Homo sapiens: one gene and its partner. The protein of the gene in region 1 binds, or shares a complex with, the protein of each later gene. Each region holds a gene or a part of one and is shown on either strand. Other genes may lie near its edges. A codon is read from its position in the direction of its gene.

Region 1 (9,674 bases):
AGATATTTAGGTTATCTCTTTTTTAAAAATTATTGTGGACAATATGACTGTGAACATCCCTATCTGAACAATTTTGTAGGATTATTTTCTACTAGAAGTAGAAATAATTGTCATGGGAGTGCCATAATTTTATTTTCACTGGTGATTATAGTCGATTTTTATTCAGTTATGTGTGTGTACAAGATATGTGGTGAACATGTTTTACTTTGTTCTTAAGTTTACTTGTGTTATAGCAATATGTAAGGAAGCTTAGCTTTCATTTTCATTGAAACTCTCCTTTATAGATTTGAACAAAATTCACTTTTATTGGCTCTGCACATTTTCTAGATAAATCATATTTGTGTTGTTTTTAAAGTATGCATTTGTACTGTGTCTTTTATTAAGAATAACTATAATTCATTTTCTACAGATTTCAAATGGTAATGTTTTTTAAGAAAAGTTTTAGGAAAATTTTCCTATTCCTCTAACATGTTTGTAGGAAAAACATTAGTCCTTATCTTATAAGTAGAAACACATTTGCTGTTAATCATTAAATGACACCTTATATCCTTAGATTTGCAGGAAAGCATATCCAGAATCCATCGAACAATTGAATTAATGTACTCTGACAAATCTATGATACAAGTAAGTGAAATTTTGAGCTAGTAATCATTGTCAAAATTATTTACATATATTTTAATTTACCTTTACATTATCTTAATCTAATTTTTCTTTACATGTTTTGTTTTAAAATTTTGGCAAATCTTATTGTAAAATAATAAGGGCTTGCAATATGTACAATGTGACAGTTCATCTGAATGGGGAAACTTTTATAACAAATTTATAACAAAATTCATGACAAGTTTTCCCCATTCAGTTGTATTTTCACACCGTATGTGTTGTGTACCCTTACTATTTTACAGTAAAATCTACCAAAGTTTTTCAAAAGGCTATAGCATCTTTAAAAAGTCTTATGGGAGAAAATCTATGGTTGTTAAAGGATATTAAGATTTGGGAAGAAACTTAAGGACTCCATTACATTTTAACTTCTGGTGTATATCATATAATCTATTTTGTTAACCGTCAATTTAGAATTCTGAAGATGTAGACACATTTGCTATATGTAAAACTGCCCACTATAAGCTTTTTATTCAAATAAACAATTAGGCCAATGAGTATGTACACAATAAATACATTTTTAGTTTTTCAAAAATCATCTTTTTAATCTATCAACTTTGCATATCTTTAGCTTATTCAGATTCCGTCTTTTTAAAGTTTTATAGTTTAGTTTTTTTCAAACTTTTAAGCCCAGCCAGTTCTCTCTCATTTAAAAAAAAAAATGCTCTTATGGTTTTCTCCAAACAGGTTGTTTGTGGGTTTCATGGAATGTGGTATATAGTAAACTACATAATTGCAGTTTAACTCTTCTTTTTTTCACATTTAGGTTCCTTATCGATTACATGCCGTTTTAGTTCACGAAGGCCAAGCTAATGCTGGGCACTACTGGGCATATATTTTTGATCATCGTGAAAGCAGATGGATGAAGTACAATGATATTGCTGTGACAAAATCATCATGGGAAGAGCTAGTGAGGGACTCTTTTGGTGGTTATAGAAATGCCAGTGCATACTGTTTAATGTACATAAATGATAAGGCACAGTTCCTAATACAAGGTAAGAATATATAGGGTGGTGTGTATTTTTAAATAGTCATAAAAGTGGCTCTGGTATGTGGTGTGATTAGTTAAGTGTAATTCACTCAGACGATGAAGGATGTGGTTAGGAAATGCTACTGGGTTTTGACAAGACTGAATTGAAAAGTAATGTCGTCAGGGCTAAGAATTCGTATATATTTTGTATTCCAAGTCAACTATTAAAGGTAAATATGACCTTTTTCGTCCTTGCTAAAAATGCTTTAGTGACTGTTCCACAGATTGACTCACATTTAATATTTAATTCCTTAGCCTAACATATATGGCCTCTGTTCTTGGCCTCTGATTATCTCCCCACCTTCATTGATCACCAGTGTTCCTTTTGAATTTATATCCTTACTGAACTTCTTGCTGTATCTGCTCATATCAAACCATTTCACACATTTATGTTTGCATGTTCGTATATGTTTTATTTTTTGCTAGTAATTCTTTTGCCTAATTCTTGTTTATCTGTCAAGATTCAATTCAGGTGTCATTTCCCCTGCAAACTATTTCTTGATCTGCCAAAAAGTATCTCTCCTTATGCTGTCCTGGCATCTGTCTACTGGGCATTTACTGTTGTGTATTGGAACTGTGTGATGACTTGTCTTGCACATTTCTCTCTTATCTGCTCAGAGCCAGAGATCATGTCATACTATGTCTGAATCTTTTTAATGCTGATATTCTGATATATGCTTTGCATATAGAAAATAATAAAGGTTTATTGAAACTGATAAAAATAATCTTTTTATATTTAGTCATTCAGAATCAGCTAGGCAGTCCACTTCTGACTAAAAAAATGAAGTTATTTTTCTGTGTGTGTAGTAGAAGTTCAGTAATTCTTCTGAATACTCTATTGTTTTTAAGATCTTGCTATATTAATTTTCATAATTGCATATTTAAGTCTACTTAATTTCTTCATATGACAAACAATTTTCATTTTATTTTGAGCTAATAAGGTTAACATGATTATGAGTTGTTTACATTTTGTGAAAAGTTTTACTTTTTAAGTGATCAAACATCTGGTATTTTCCAATAGTGGCAGAAGTAGTATTACATCACTGTTAGAGTAGCAAAGAAAAAAAAAAATGGCCGGGCGCGGTGGCTTATGCCTGTAATCCCAGCACTTTGGGAGGCCAAGGTGGGCAGATCATGAGGTCAGGAGATCGAGACCATCCTGGCTAACACAGTGAAACCCCATTCTACTAAAAATACAAAAAAATTAGCCGGGCTTGGTGGTGGGCACCTGTAGTCTCAGCTACCCGGGAGGCTGAGGCGGGAGAATCGTCTGAACCCGGAAGGCGGAGGTTGCAGTGAGCCGAGATTGTGTCACTGCACTCCAGCCTGAGTGACAGCATGACACTCTGTCTCAAAAAAACAAACAACAACAGCAACAAAAAACTTGGCTTTGGCTTTGTATTTTCTGTCACTTCTACTCTTAAGATAAAAAAAAATCTGAGACCATTACCTATGATGGATTATCAAATATTTTCATCATTGTTTTTCTGAGCATTTGTTTGAGTTTTAAAAAGTTTTGTAGATAATAATTATTTGCTAAGCAATAGTAATTCTTAAGTAATATGATTGGCTGAGTGGTAATAATTCATAGTTTAAATTCTATTTGAAATGCAGTCTATTTTGAGCTTTGCATTTTCCCTTTAATTCTTAATTTTATACTAGTTTTTGAAATATGATTTGCAGAGGAGTTTAATAAAGAAACTGGGCAGCCCCTTGTTGGTATAGAAACATTACCACCGGATTTGAGAGATTTTGTTGAGGAAGACAACCAACGATTTGAAAAAGAACTAGAAGAATGGGATGCACAACTTGCCCAGAAAGCTTTGCAGGAAAAGCTTTTAGCGTCTCAGAAATTGAGAGAGTCAGAGACTTCTGTGACAACAGGTTTGTCCATTTTTATTAAGTTGTGTTTGATTATCAATATTATTTTTATAATAAGATATGCTCATTATTAAAAAGTTTTAGCTATCTTAAAGTGTGAGGAAATCAGTAGAAATCATTTCAAATTCCATCACTCAGATTATCACAGTTAACAATTTAGTTTACCTTTTTGCCAGACACCACTGTATATATTTATATGTTTTTCAAGATAAATGAGATAATTCTGTTGACTTTCCCTCTACCTACTCTGCCTGTGTTGGGTGGGCTTGAATTTTCTTGGCAAGTAGCAGAGAAAGCTGTGAAATCAGCAAGAAACCCAAACCAATTCACTAAAGCTATCAAGAGTATCAATTCAATAAAGCTATCAAGAGTATCAATTCAATAAAGCTATCAAGAGTAGTAATTTTAAATTTGGCCAAAATAATACTACCGGTATATTCATATATACTTTGTGCAATAGTAAAATACTACCATTAATAACTATTTGATGTTTTTCGGAATTCTTAAGATTAAGAGAAAATTGACCAAAACTATTTAGTATATCACAGGTAAAAAGTAAGTGTATAGACCTGTAAACCAAAGATATAAATGCATAAACATATAAATATTTAAAAACATTATTCTGAAATGAACTATTAGCTGATGAAATCAATAAGTCAAAGTAAACACTGTATAGGAATTAAGAAAATAGTTTCTAGTAAAATTGAAAATATATTGTCTTTTTATTTTCTTAAAAGATTACTCTTCACTGAGTTGCAAATATGTTTTAGGGCAACATGTTTTCTGGTATAGAAAATGCTATTTCTCAGAGAAGCTATAAATTAAGCGCATATATTTTCCTCAAACTCATTTGTCTCTTTTTATAACTGCTAGTGGATATTATTGAATAACTTTTTTTTTTTGCAAGATCTGCATGTTTTGTGTTTTAAGGAAGTAGTTCCAGCTTTTGTTTGTTTAATTTCATCTTTCGCAGACAGAGGTTTCCTTGCAGCATTACCTGGTTGGGCTTCAGCATTATCATTTGAACTTTAGAAGGAATTATTACTTCAATAGAAGATTGTTTTACAGTGCTACAATGTAGTATTGTGACTGTCGCAGGCATGCACAAATCTGTCCAGATACTTAACTTATTTTCATGTAGATCAAATAATTGTCGTTGATTTTGATCCTGAGAGGCAGATAATTCAGCATTTTTTAAAAAGATAATGGTATCACAGCAACATTTGGATACTACAGTGCTATGGAGAATACCACCATTATAGTGGCTGGTGAACTCTACCATTATGTAGGGCTGCACTTTTCCCCCACGTGTACAAGGCTACCGCGTAGAGCAGGTGAAGCTATGTGGGTCCACAACAATGTAGTTTTTAGTAGATGTCAAGAGGTATCTAAGCTCAAATCACAGTGTAGTAACTATATTATAGTTCCTTTCATTTTTAAAACATTTCTGTCCCTTTGTGATTTCATGCTTTGCATTCTGTACATATTCTTTCCAAATCACTCCTCAGAACCTGCCCCAAGATGGAGCTACTGTGTTATTGTTCCCTTAACATTTACTTATTCCATTCACATGTGACTATTCTTGTTATTAGTGGGAGGAAGGGGCTGCATAGTGTACTATAAGCAGTTGTGGTACCTAAGCTCCCAGACACAGGTGAATCCTCCATTCATTGGTTAAGCTCCAGTTTTATTCTTGGCTCACCTATATTTTGTGATACCAAAATATTAAGTTCTATATATCCTCCTCCTCTTCATCCTGTCTGTTTCTCATCTCTCCAAATTTTCAGAGTTAACATATTTTATTTCTGCTTAGTCAAACGAATACATATTTCCAACTAATATTCCTATCTATTAAGGACTAGCCTTGCCCCATCCTCATTTTACATTTGTCATCTTTTTTCTTTCTCTGTGAAAAGACCATGTGTGCATAACTGCATCCATTTTCATGATCAATACATCTGACCATACACTTTACATGGTGTTTTGTAATTTTTAAAAAATGCAGTACTAGGTATTGGACATATATTTTCATGTCTGTTTTTACCATGCAAAATAATCTTAGAATGTTGATATATTTCTGGGAGGAACCAGAATAAAAGATGAAGAGATGGAAATGGTCAATTCCTATTCCTAGATAACTTTTATAGTTACCTTTCAGCGTGGGTTATTTAGAAAGCAGTGGTAATACTACTTCTGTAGGAAACATTGTATCCTCCATAGACTTGACGGAAATATGCACTTGGTTTGAATTAGTAGAAGTAGAACATGCCAAGTCCATAAATTTACAGAGTGAGATTGTTGTTTAAAAGATTGGTTTCTATTACTGTTATCTTTGAGATTATATTAAGAAATTTGTTCTCTGTTGCAGGATAGTTTCACATATCATAATTGAATAAGACTAATGTTTCATTAGAACCATTTATTCCCTATTATTAATAGGGAAATTTTATTTTAATGTCCATGCCATCCTCTTCTGATTCTTCTCATGGTTTTCAAAGTAAGTAATTTAATTTGGTATAATACTTCCAGGATCTCAAAGCAAATCTGTATTTTAATCTCTCAGGTGTTCACTAGTATTACCAGTGACTAGTGGAAATAATAAAAGGAAATCTTGTTCATAAAATCCAACAGAATGATTTTTTTCCTCCCTGCAAAATCTTCTCGTTAAAGCTGAAACATAAGACCTCATAAAATTCAATTTCTACTGAGTGATATTCCAATTAAGAGTACTAATTCATATTATATTAATCAAATTAGTATTTGTTCCTCTTCTGCTAAAATGTGATCGAGAAATTCATGCGTATCAGTTCACCAGCACCATTCGTTCCCTACTGAGATAATAAATGATGGGAAAGTATTTTTTGGTTCATTTCATGCTGCTTCCCTAGATCTGCTTACTGCAAAGGCAAACTTACCTGAATACTTTTGTTGAGATTTTCAGCCAGCCATTCTTTGCTGTCAGTGTGGGGATCAGAATGAGTAGGGGAGCAAACTTACCTGAATACTGTTGTTGAGATTTTCAGCCAGCCATTCTTTGCTGTCAGTGTGGGGATCAGAATGAGTAGGGGAGCAAACTTACCTGAATACTGTTGTTGAGATTTTCAGCCAGCCATTCTTTGCTGTCAGTGTGGGGATCAGAATGAGTAGGGGAGCAAACTTACCTGAATACTGTTGTTGAGATTTTCAGCCAGCCATTCTTTGCTGTCAGTGTGTGGATCAGAGTGAGTAGGGGAGCAAACTTACCTGAATACTGTTGTTGAGATTTTCAGCCAGCCATCCTTTGCTGTCAGTGTGTGGATCAGAATGAGTAGGGGAGCAAACTTACCTGAATACTGTTGTTGAGATTTTCAGCCAGCCATCCTTTGCTGTCAGTGTAGGGAACAGAGTGAGTAGGGGAGCAAACTTACCTGAATACTGTTGTTGAGATTTTCAGCCAGCCATCCTTTGCTGTCAGTGTGTGGATCAGAGTGAGTAGGGGAGCAAACTTACCTGAATACTGTTGTTGAGATTTTCAGCCAGCCATCCTTTGCTGTCAGTGTGTGGATCAGAGTGAGTAGGGGAGCAAACTTACCTGCATACTGTTGTTGAGATTTTCAGCCAGCCATCCTTTGCTGTCAGTGTGTGGATCAGAGTGAGTAGGGGAGCAAACTTACCTGAATACTGTTGTTGAGATTTTCAGCCAGCCATCCTTTGCTGTCAGTGTGTGGATCAGAGTGAGTAGGGGAGCAAACTTACCTGAATACTGTTGTTGAGATTTTCAGCCAGCCATCCTTTGCTGTCAGTGTGTGGATCAGAGTGAGTAGGGGAGCAAACTTACCTGAATACTGTTGTTGAGATTTTCAGCCAGCCATCCTTTGCTGTCAGTGTGGGGATCAGAGTGAGTAGGGTTTTTTTTTCTGAGTGTGAACAGCACACCCTACCTAAGGCCACTTAAGAGACACTGGAGTCAGAATCTCTGGAGAAAGGATCTGATACAGTGCTATCTTAAAGAGATCTTCAGATAATTCTGAGGTTAAGCAGCATGGCTCTAGGCTGTATTTATAAAACAGAAATTATGCTGGAGAGAAGAGCGTTGTCCGAGTTACTATTTTACTTATATTACTCTTGTCTTATCCAAGAAGTATCTGAAGTCCTTACAATATAGCACACCCAGATTTCTTTAAAAAATAAGGAAACACTAGTGAAGATTGGAATGAAGTGTATTGCGTAAGGTTTTATAAATTTCTCTAGAGGAAGCAGGCAGAGTTGGCTCTGGAACTTCTCTACACTGTCTACAAGTTAAAAATAAGCTGATGTTCCAGGAGAGTACGGTTGGATCCTGAGAGTAAGACCTGGTAGAATAAACAGTATCGTCAGTGTTCTCAGATTCCTTGAAAGCAGGAACTAGGTGATATTCTTTTTTTTTTTTCTGAGACAGTTTCACTTTGTTGCCCAGGCTGAAGTGCAGTGGCATGATCTTAGCTCACTGCCTGCCGGGTTCAAGCAATTCTTGTGCCTCAGCCTCCTGAGTAGCTGAGACTACAGGCATATACCACCACACTGGGCTGATTTTTTTGTATTTTAGTAGAGACAAGGCTTCACCATGTTGATCAGTCTTGAACTCAAATTCCTGAGCTCAGGCAGTCCTCCCACCTCAGCCTCCCAAAGTGCTAGGATTACAGGCATGAAGCCACCATGCCAGGCCTGGTGGTGTTCTTATTTATATCTCCAGCATCTAGTATAATAAACGACATATGATAGATGTTCCTTGAAAGTTTTCTGTTAATAAGTTCATTCCCTATGGAGATTTCCAATAATGAATTTCTTAGGGGTGATCCTCAGTGTAGGAGAACATAAAATTTTAAAGTAGAAACAAAATAGTCACACAATAAGGAGGCAGGCCAAATACATGGGGTGAGGATGTAGCTCTTTGTCCCGGATAAATTTATGGTTTGACTCTGGTTTCTAAACCTCTCTCCCCCACACCCCTCAGACTTTCTTCGGAATGGGGCCCAGGAATCTGAAGTTTCAAAAATTCCACCAGCGATTCTATGCAACCACCTAAGCGTGGCTCTTTGTAGGCTCTTACAGGGTATTGTGGACTTTTAAATACATTTCTAGAAATGGATGCACTGTGTATCTCTCAAGCAGTCCGCTTTAAATCTTCTTCAGTGTGAACGTAATAAGTATTGACTTACTAGTAAGTCAAAAAAATAAAGACTTCTGAAAGATATCAGAGATGTTGGTCTTATTTTTATAGTTAAGAGCAACCCTTACTCTTTAATAGAAAGCCAATTGGTGGTAAAGTTGACCTTCTTAAAAGATTGAAGACCATAACCAGGAAATATGCATAAGTAAAGCACCCCCAAACCTCCTCAATAGCCTGTTTCAACATGAAGATGGACAAAAGGAGCAGACTCAGAGTTCCCTCAGAATGTTGAGTTGTCTTCTATAACAGCTAGAGAAGCATGGCCGGAAAATCACTCTGTGGAGGCCAGTCATTTGAAAATCCTAGAGAAATACCCATAGAACAGATGAGTGATTGGAGAGAGACTTTAGGAATAAGGATATTATTTACCTCCATAGAGAACTGGTCATTCATGGTGAAATGAGTGCATTTAAATTTTTTGTTTGTTTGTTTCCAGTCTCCCAGGGTTTCAAACCATTGTGGGTTTACCTACCGTGACTACAACACCACTCATCTAAGTTCCCTGGGAGGTATATACACAGGGAAAACCCTAGAGAAAATTGTTCTGTATGGCATTTAGGGAATTTATAGCTGTGGGCCACTAGTGATGGGGTTTTTAATAGGGTTAGAGGATGAACAACAATTGTATTATATGGTAAAAGCCGAACTTGTTCTGCTGTTGTTCCTAACACAGAAATAGAAATTACTAAAGTGTATGGTAGGGTATTAGTTGCGTGAGCCTTCCATACAGAACAACACAATATAACCAGTACATGTTACATTGAATAGAGAGTAATTCTTTTTGTTTAAAAATATGAGTAGGTAGGTACAGTCTGGAAATAATGTATCAGAAATATTAATAGTGCTTATCTCTGAGTAATGCAAAGAGTTTTAAATTTTCCACATTTTTCTTGTTTGTTCTAGTAAACATTTTTATTC
Region 2 (9,674 bases), on another chromosome or scaffold:
ATGAAAATGGAGATACAGAGGAGTGAATTGTTAAATAAAAACAGGTATACACAATGGTGCTTTACCAGATGATCTCATTCTTAACTCTTTGTATCCTTTTCTTTTTTTTCAGCATGTTGACATAGCGGCTTTATTGATAAAATACAACACGTGTGTAAATGCAACAGATAAGTGGGCGTTTACTCCCCTCCATGAAGCAGCCCAGAAAGGAAGGACGCAGCTGTGCGCCCTCCTCCTAGCGCATGGTGCAGACCCCACCATGAAGAACCAGGAAGGCCAGACGCCTCTGGATCTGGCAACAGTAAGTCCTCATTTCAGATACTGATTATTGTTCCTTCTACTTTCACAGATGACATCAGATTCTCGGGTTCACCAGCTTACTTTTAGTCGTGTTTATTTCACTTAGAACAGAGATCTTCTGAAAATTTTTGAAGTTCACACTTTTTCTATGAAAATATAATTTAAAACTCTTAAGACAAACTAAACAGTAAGTTAATTTAATTTTTTGCCATTCTTAGCCTGCTGGGAAAACATGGATCTTAAGAAAACATGTTTTTAGAGTGTACCCTCAAAGAATTATATTTAGTAAAATATCTTGTACCTTCTATATTTGGCATGTTATTGTAGAGCAACTAATGTTCATGATAATTTACCTAAGTCTGTGAGATAGTCAAAGAAAAATTAACTCTGGGCAGTATTATTTAACTGCAAAGTTAAGCACTGCATCATCTTCCGTGAACTTTCTGAAAACCAGGGAGTTACTGTATAGTCACAGTAATTTCTAATTTTTAAGCCAGAAATGTTTTTTCAAGTTATGTTCTGTTTCATTTATTGATTGCTGCGTAACAAACTGTTTCAAAACACCCAGTGGCTTAAAATAATAATGACTTATTATTTCTTATGATTCTGTATGTTGGCTAGGAGATTCTTCTGGTCTTACCTGGGGTCACTTGTGCAACTGCATATAGCTGGTGGCTGGGGCAGAAACATAAAGACGGCTTCATTCATATGCCTGGGGCCTTGACAGATACAACTAGAAGGCAGGGGCCTCTCTAGTCCCATGTGGCATCTCATCATTAAGTGGTCTTGTTAGAATTTCTTCACAGAATAATTGTATCTCAAGAGGGAGAAAGCAGAGGCTGTCATTGTTCTTTAAGGCTAAGCCTGGAACTGACATGCTGTCACTTCTGCCACATTCTGTTGTGCAAAGCAAGTCATGAAGTCAGCTCAGGTTCAAGGGATAGGAAAACAGATTCCACCTTCTTTGAAAGGAGAAGCAAAAATTTCGTGGCCATCTTTAATCAGCCACAGTCTTCCCTGTGAATACAAATTAAATCTATTTTTCCCACATTCAAATTACACTCACCTGCCACGTGCTCCCCCCACCAACAGGGGGCAGATAGTCATCACTGGGTCCTTAGCAATTCTAAAATTCAGCCAGACACATGTTATCAGGGCCATCTACTCTGGAGTTAGGGAATGATCCCTGATTAGGGCCCAGTTCTGCTCCCAGGGAGTGGTTCACTGTGGCTGTCTTTTTTTTTCCTTTTTTTTCTTTTCTTTTTTTTTTTTTTCCCCCTTAAGACACAGTCTGGCTATGTCACCCAAGCCAGAGTGCAGTGGCGTGATCATGGCTCACCACAACCCCAACCTCTTAGATTCAAGCCATCCTCGTATCTCAATCTCCTGAGTAGCTGGGACTACAGGCACATGCCACTATGCCTGGCTATTTTTTTTGTTTTTACTTTTTGTAGAGACAGGGTCTTGCTATGTTGCCCAGGTTAGTCTTGAACTTCTGGGCTCCTCCCTCAGCCTCCTTCCTCAGCCTCCCAAAGTGCTGGGATTACAGGTGTGAACCACTGTACATAGCCTCTGTAGCTCTTGGCCATGCCCTCTGAATTATCCTTCTCTTTTCATAAGAAATGGATCATATTTACAGCCAAGTGGCTTTCTCAACCTGTTCCCTGCTCCTAGAAATTTTCGGGACCCTGAGCCTTTTATCATTTTGATCTACCTGTCCCTTTTAGTCCAAACTAGTACAACTCTTCCTTTGTAAACTTTTGGATTTCCCATCAAATTACACACCACTCCATCAGCCAAAAGCTCCACCCACAAATCTTTTCAAGACAGGTCCCTCTCTAACATGGAATCCAAGTAAAGGTGCAGTGGGACAATGCCCATAAGATCCTTTGAAGCTCTTTCATCTAGCCAAGGGAATTCACAAGGTACCACCTTAGAGGTTTTTTAAAGATTTTGAGGTAATATATCTGTACCTCTAGTTGATTTTTATTCTGAGGCCATGTTTTCCTGTCAGCACGCTGGATTTGACCTTTGGCCTGAGGCTGTGCCTTACTTGAAGAAACTTTTGCTGATGGAGAGGCTGGGAATGGTGAATAATTTTGTTTTCTAAGCTAGCAAATGTTAGGTGAATACATTTCCTTAAAGAGAACTGGACAGTTCCTTTCTCTCTTCCTGTACCTTATCATGGGCAGATAAACACACCAGTCCAGTTGACAAGGCAGAATTTGTTCTGGAAATTTCCTTAGCCAAATTTACAAATTTATTTAGGTTTACGTTCTACCTTCCGTAAGACCTCCTGTGGCAGCGTTGCCAAACTTTCTGCTACACAGCATTAGTCCCCTTTCTCTCGCCTTCAGTAGCACTTGCCTATCTATCTTCCATTCACAGCCTCCCTCAGCAATAACCAGGCCACCCTTCACGCCTCCAACCAAAGCCACATGTCCACCAGCACCCCACTTCCAGGTACTGGTGTGCATTTCATTTCTCTATTGCTGCCCACTAAGCCACCCCCAAACCCACTGAGGGTTTAACGTGACAATTTATTATTTCTCACACGTCTGGGAGTTGACTGGGCTCAGCTGGGTGGTTCTGGTTTTGCAGTTACCTGCACCTGGGAACTCAGCAGAGGCTGGAGCTTCCAAGATGGCCTTTCATCCCGCAGGGCTCTCCCTGCATAGGATCTCACCACTCAGTAGTCTAGCCCAAACTTCTGTACAACATGGCAGATGGCTTCTAAGAGAGTAAAAGTAGACACTGCCAATCCACTTAAAGCCTGGCTCAAAAGCCTCAGAATGTCACTTCTTCTCCATTCTATTGGTCAAGACAACTCACAGGGCAAACCACATTCGGCGGGTAGGGGGCAGAAATTCAAGGGGAGGCATACATGACGGGAGGAAGGAATTGATGGGTGGCTGTCTTTGGAGACTATCTCCCGCATACTCGAAAAGCAGTTGCATCTAATACTTAAAAACTGAAAAGTTTATGAATAAATGAGCTAAATTAAAGTGTCATCCCTTTGAAATTTCACCAGATGTTAATTGTACATGAAATTATTAAGTGTGAAGTAAATAACCAGATTATAGCTGTTTAAACGTAAACAAAATATAGTAAACACAGAAATTTTTTCTAAAGAAGGGTGACAGTTAACACTGAAAGTGCTTTTTTTTAAATGAAAGAAGAAATATCTTTAAAAATTACATAGTTTCTCCAATTCTGTCTACTGAAACTATTGAAACTCTTTGGAGCTGTGGATAGGAGAAGGAATGATCAAAAACCAGTAGGTGATAATGAGGCATTCATTAAGGAAAAAATCCACAAAGTATTTGGTTATCAGTGAAAAACTTACCATTTTAATATATAGTATTTTCATGGTTTTTGTTTTTAATCATTTTTTTAGGCTGACGATATCAGAGCTTTGCTGATAGATGCCATGCCCCCAGAGGCCTTACCTACCTGTTTTAAACCTCAGGCTACTGTAGTGAGTGCCTCTCTGATCTCACCAGCATCCACCCCCTCCTGCCTCTCGGCTGCCAGCAGCATAGACAACCTCACTGGCCCTTTAGCAGAGTTGGCCGTAGGAGGAGCCTCCAATGCAGGGGATGGCGCCGCGGGAACAGAAAGGAAGGAAGGAGAAGGTGAGTAGACCCCATGAATGCTTATTTATTTATACCTTTTGTTAGTGGAGCAGAATGACTTTTTTCTATTGATAACTATTGAATGCCTCAATTAGAGACGTCCTGTCTGTAAATTTTCATACACACAACATCTTACAAGAAATATTTCTTCATAGAAGGCTGCCACGTTTCTTGGCATTGTCGTTGTTCTTATTTCTGTATATTCTAGAGCATCTGTTTACAACCATAGCATCTTATTGAACCACTTATACTGAAATTGTGTCAGAACACAACTGAGAGGTCATTTCAGGAATGAAAACTAAAATGATAGCTGATACATTTAGATTTTTTAATTCATTAAAAGCTTTAGATGTTTCTATATAAGTAGCATTCTGTAGTATAAGAATTATACTATAATGTTAAAATTAGTATAATATTCTCTATATTTTTATAAATTACAATAAGTTATAATTCTATATTCTAACCATAATATTAGAATACAAATACTAATTTGATAAAGATAAAACACTCTGTTTTTACTTCCCAATCAACTTCAGAAATAAAGTGTCTAAATTAAATCTGTGTATTCTGTATTATTTTATGCCATGGAAAATCATCTGACAGCCAAGGTTGTCAGAGTCATGTCTAAATGGATACTGAAATTTTCTTTATATTTAGAGAATTCTTTCTGAGAATCTTTAATATGTTTCTGTTTTAGTTGCTGGTCTTGACATGAATATCAGCCAATTTCTAAAAAGCCTTGGCCTTGAACACCTTCGGGATATCTTTGAAACAGAACAGGTAAATACTCTTGTATATATTTGAGTCATTTAAATTAAATACTAAGATTAGGCTGGATGCAGTGGTTCACACCTTACTCCCAACACTTTGGAATGCTTCGGCAGGATTGCTTGAGCCCAGGAGTTTGAGACCAGCCTGGGCAACAAAGCGAGACCCCCATCTCTACAAAAAAAAAAGTTTTTAAGTTAGCTGAGCATGGTGACTTACTGGGCCCCTGTAGTGCTAGCTGCTGGGAAGCTGAAGCAGGAAGATCATGTGAGCCCAGGAGTTTGAAACTGCAGTGAGCTGTGATTGTGCCACTGCATTCTAGCTTTGGCGACAAAACAAAACCCTATCTCGAAAAAAAAAAAAAAAAGAAAGACTTATTAATTGCCACCCACCTCTTCCTCTTTTGCTTCTTACGAGCTATTCTTAAACCCACAACACATTTCTATAAGAAGCCAGAGGAGCCCAGTATTTTATACTTCTCCCCAAAATTGTCTAACAAATGAGTCTTTATTTTATCTTTATAAGCAGTCTAGCACTATGCATTTTATTACATGTCAAAACTTAGACCATGCAACTACCTCAAAAGAATGTTTTCATGATTGTCCTTGGTTGTTTGTTTCCGAAAAATGTCAGTCTTTATTCATCTCATTTCATTATTCATGTGACTAGGCTCCTGAAGCAGTTGCCCATTAATTTGGAAAGCACAGTAGTACTTAGACAACTGCACTTTTAAAAAATTGCCCCTTTATGAAGTTTCTGTTGTCCACTTGGAGTCTTAAATAATATTAAACCAAAAGTTGGCCATACATTCCAATAGACCCACCCTATTTTGGGATCCATCTTAAATGTCTGTGAAGGTCTAAGGATGGAGTCATCATTAGGGCATTTATGAATTAGGATTCTTCTGTTTGTTTTACTGTTTTCATACAGGATAAGGAGTTGTAATATTGTATGCTTTCATTATTATGATCAGCTTTAAATATTGAATGATGGTAACTCCTGAATTTAAATGGACTATTGATATACATGAAATTTAAGAATGGGAAAGGTGTTTAGAGAAAAATTATTCTCCCAGGTGTAGGGATCACCCTTGTATAATAACACCCATGTTAGTCCTCCAGCCAAGGAAGATATCTTGTTACAATTTGGGACAGGTGTAATAGAATGCTTGTAACTTAAAGTGTGCCAAAATCTGCCCGTAGGTATAATTCCTTTGTTTTCAGCTTACGCTTACGCTTACCCTGTTTTGCACAGAGATCTAATCTCCAGTCTACATATGTATTCAGTTTCAGAGGACTATACTCCCTACAGAGGCTGTAGGGGAGAATCTATTCCATGCCTCTTCCTGCTTCTGATGGTTGGCAGCTTCCTTGGCTTGTGGCCATGCTACTCCAGTCTCTGCATCCATCTTCACATTGCCTTCCTGTCCTCTCTATCTCTTCTAAGGACATTTGCATTGAATTTGAGGCCACCAGTATAATCCTGGGTGATCTCCTCATCTCTAGACCCTTAACATAATTTCGTCTGCAGACACTTTTCTTCCAAGGAAGGTGACATTCACAGGTTCTGGGGATTAGAACATAGACGTATCATTTTGAGGGCCACCATTCAGCCCACTACAACATAATATGGCCCTAGATATCTTTTTAAGACCTAGTCAACTTATCAGAGGTGTCACCCTTTCAATCACCCACCTCTACACATCTTCCCCTATTTTAGAATAAATCTGTTTTTTCAATTATTCTTTATATGACATAATTTTCCAGTATTTCACTGGCACCTTTGGCCCATTATGGTTCCCTTCTAGGCTTATAGTCAGTTTGGAGTTAACTTAAAAACCAGGTCTTTTTTCTTATTTATATCAATTATACTGTTAAGATTTTTTTTCTGCTTTCTCTCTTTTTTTTAGCTACATTTTTTCATTATAGTTCATCTTTAATGCTCTTAATGATAAGAACAGCCGAGTAGGGATAGCACTGGACTAAAAGAAGACCTTAATTCTAATTATTTTTACCCTCTTACTAGCTGTGTAAAATTGGGCTGAATGACATTTATCCTATCACTTCCTTTACCTGTAAAACCTAATGCTTATAAATGTTCAGAGAGTTAAAATCCTCAGTAATATTGTGCTGCTGTGTCAGCTTTTAATACAGTGATGCATCACAGGTGCCTTTGCGTCTAATGGTTAGGACTTTATAGACTGCTGTCTATAAAATCATTTTCTTTTCCAACCATTTATTCATCCTCTGGTTTGGAGCTTTCTTAGGACAATATCCTAAATAGTAAGACTGCTTCATCCTTATTCCCTAACTGAAGGTGTGAAAGCTGATTTAAAACCATTATACTCTGCTGTTCCCATATTACAGCTATAGCTGTTCTTCCCAAATCATTTCCACAATAATTGTAAAATTTCAAACACATCTTTGCTAAATAAACCAAAGACCTTAACTCAAACAAATAATTCCAATTTACTGATGAAAGTTTTCTAAAGAATGTTCATTTTTCTTCTTTTAGTCAGTTTGCATTATAATTTTATGTGTTCTTTTTAAATTTATATCGTATATTCGCATTGTCAGTAACTGACTTCCTGTGGCGTATTTATCACATTTTATTGATTTGAATAGTTTAATAGTTTAGTCTCCTAGTCACTCCTTCTGACAGCTTGTCCTGGTTTCATCAGTTTCATTGTTCTTTTTTTACTGCAGTTTCATTCTGAGTAAATGGTTCCATTGGTTTTCTTTTAGCCAGAATAATTTCTATAGCCTTTTATTGATCAATACATAGACGATTGCATTTAATGTATATTACCAAGCACAGTTCTTTCCCTCCAGACAGGTGATACTACCTTTCTTTGTATTGAACTGTGTCTGGCCCAATCATCAAGCAATCAAATTTATTTTTATTTTAATTGCAAATGTTATTTATCTAGCCTTCCATTATAAATAAATTTGATAACCTTTTCCATAACTTTAACCCTTAGCATTTTCTCCCATTAACATTCTATATCAGTAATATGTGATGATGGTCAATGTATTTGTATAGTCGGGGAGGAGTGAGGGTGCATGCATTGAACGCATTTAATTCATATCTGTTTGGCTTAAGCCAGGGGAGCCGTTGTTTTCTGATGCTCTTTGACATGCTTCTATGTCTCATTGCCTGTGTTCCTACTCATGGATGCCAGTGGGGTGTGGAATGTAGTTATTTTATTTCTGGTCCCAGAAGAAAACCTTCGGCACATCATAGCCTCACCTCCTATCTTCACAGTTACTCTCTTGGAAGTCTCTAAACTAAATTGTCCTGTTTCCCATAGATACTTTGCCAAGTTCTATGTTGAATAATATAGTATCCTTTCTAGTTAATGAAATATAGTACCCATGTGACTTTGGCCCTTCCTTTATAACATAGCTTTGTACCTATGAACATAGGTAGGAACACTTTTTATATGGGAAAGACAGATTTTATTTACACTGCAATTCCTAGAACATAAATGCTATCACTTGGAAGACTGCTTGTGGACATTTTTATGGTTAACCTATGTATTTTCATGGAAAGTGACCAGATAAATTTTGATTTCAAATTCTTGAAGACAAAAGCATGGCCTCCCATAATTCATTGTGAACTTGATTATAAAGTTAGTTCTTATTACTCCTGCTGTACCATACAACCTTTTAAGCCCAAGCAAGAGGACGTCTTTTTCATTAAAACTAGTTTTCTCTCCCCACCCAAAGTAAAATGACTCTCAGAAGCTAGAGGTAGCTCTTTTTGCAGTGACCTTTGCTTTATGTGCAAGATGACTTTAACTGACACGTGGATAATCTTTATTCTTAGTAATTTTATTTTAATGTATACTAGATAGAAATAACTAGCCCAACAAGCTTGTGATTTCCTCAGTATAATAACTAAGTCAAGGTTTTAAAAAAGGAGCAAGTTAATTTAAATATGATTTTCAGAAAAAAAAATGTCTAACAGCTGATAGGGGTATATATAAAATTCCTGAGTCTTGAAGCAACATGTCTAAAATCCAACTAACCTGCTTTCCATCCAGATATTTCTATTTCTTTTGTTGATGCAAAAGTCTCATAGTTACCCAGCTACAGAATTTTGGAATAATCTTACTTTCATTCCTTTTATTTTAACCATTTCTATTTACCAGGCCCTGTAAATACAGTTCTCCAGTTGCTTTCAGATTCATCCCTTCCATGCCATTTTATCTTCTTCTTATTCCCAGTTGCCTTCCCTTCCAAATCTGCCCTTCATAATGCCAACAGTCTCATCCTCCTAAAATACAACTTTGATCATATTACTCTGCTGAAAAGACTTCCCAGGGCCTTTGGTATACTTTTTTTGTTTTTGTTTGTTTTTTTTTGTTTGTTTGTTTTTGAGATGGAGTCTAGCTCTGTTGCCCAGGCTGGAGTGCAGTGGCGTGATCTCAGCTCACTGCAACCTCCGCCTCCCAGGTTCACACGATTCTCTTGCCTCAGCCTCCTGAGTAGCTGGGATTACAGGCATAGGCCACCATACCCGGCTAATTTTTGTATTTTTAGTAGAGATGGGGTTTCACCATGTTGGTCAGGCTGGTCTCAAACTCCTGACCCCGTGATCTGCCCGCCTTGGCCTCCCAAAGTGCTGAGATTACAGGCATGAGCCACCACACCTGGCCAGCCTCTGGTATACTTCTAAGCCTCTTAGTTTGATAGATAAGGCCCTTTAAGATCCTCTCTGTGCCTGCTGCTCTGCTGTGCTCCTTTTAATCCTTGATACATACTCTCCTGTAACCATTTTGAACTACAGTACTTAAGGTCCCTCAAATACTCTGTATTCTTTTAACTGATTTTCCCTTTGCACATGGTATTCCCTCTGTCTTAAGCCCACTTCCCTCCTTCCCCTGACTGATGAGCTCCTGCTGCTTAGCTGAATTATGACCTTCTTCTGAGAACCTTTCCTCATCTCCTTCCTGCTCCTTCCTTCCCA

Evidence for each region.
Region 2: the proteins of USP25 (region 1) and TNKS are in contact, whole or in part, in a crystal structure (PDB 5GP7), measured with the Homo sapiens proteins. Residues at the interface, in NP_037528.3 of Homo sapiens: Ser1046, Ser1048, Arg1049, Thr1050, Pro1051, Ala1052, Asp1053, Gly1054, Arg1055; in NP_003738.2 of Homo sapiens: Arg836, Ser838, His842, Leu843, Gly846, Tyr847, Leu871, Asn876, Ser879, Tyr880, His882 (codon at 113), Asp900 (codon at 167), Trp902 (codon at 173), Phe904 (codon at 179), Glu909 (codon at 194), Gln912 (codon at 203), Lys913 (codon at 206), Gln934 (codon at 269), Glu935 (codon at 272).

The regions. Positions count from the first base shown.
Region 1 is NC_000021.9:15,829,978-15,839,651, forward strand, and holds part of USP25 (ubiquitin carboxyl-terminal hydrolase 25), read left to right. Parts: intron 1-553; coding exon 554-624; intron 625-1,423; coding exon 1,424-1,652; intron 1,653-3,349; coding exon of another isoform or gene 3,350-3,363; exon of another isoform or gene 3,364-3,370; coding exon 3,371-3,571; intron 3,572-9,674. UniProt on the Homo sapiens protein: Deubiquitinating enzyme that hydrolyzes ubiquitin moieties conjugated to substrates and thus, functions in various biological processes including inflammation and immune response.
Region 2 is NC_000008.11:9,747,912-9,757,585, forward strand, and holds part of TNKS (poly [ADP-ribose] polymerase tankyrase-1), read left to right. Parts: intron 1-112; coding exon 113-301; intron 302-3,697; coding exon 3,698-3,935; intron 3,936-4,632; coding exon 4,633-4,715; intron 4,716-9,674.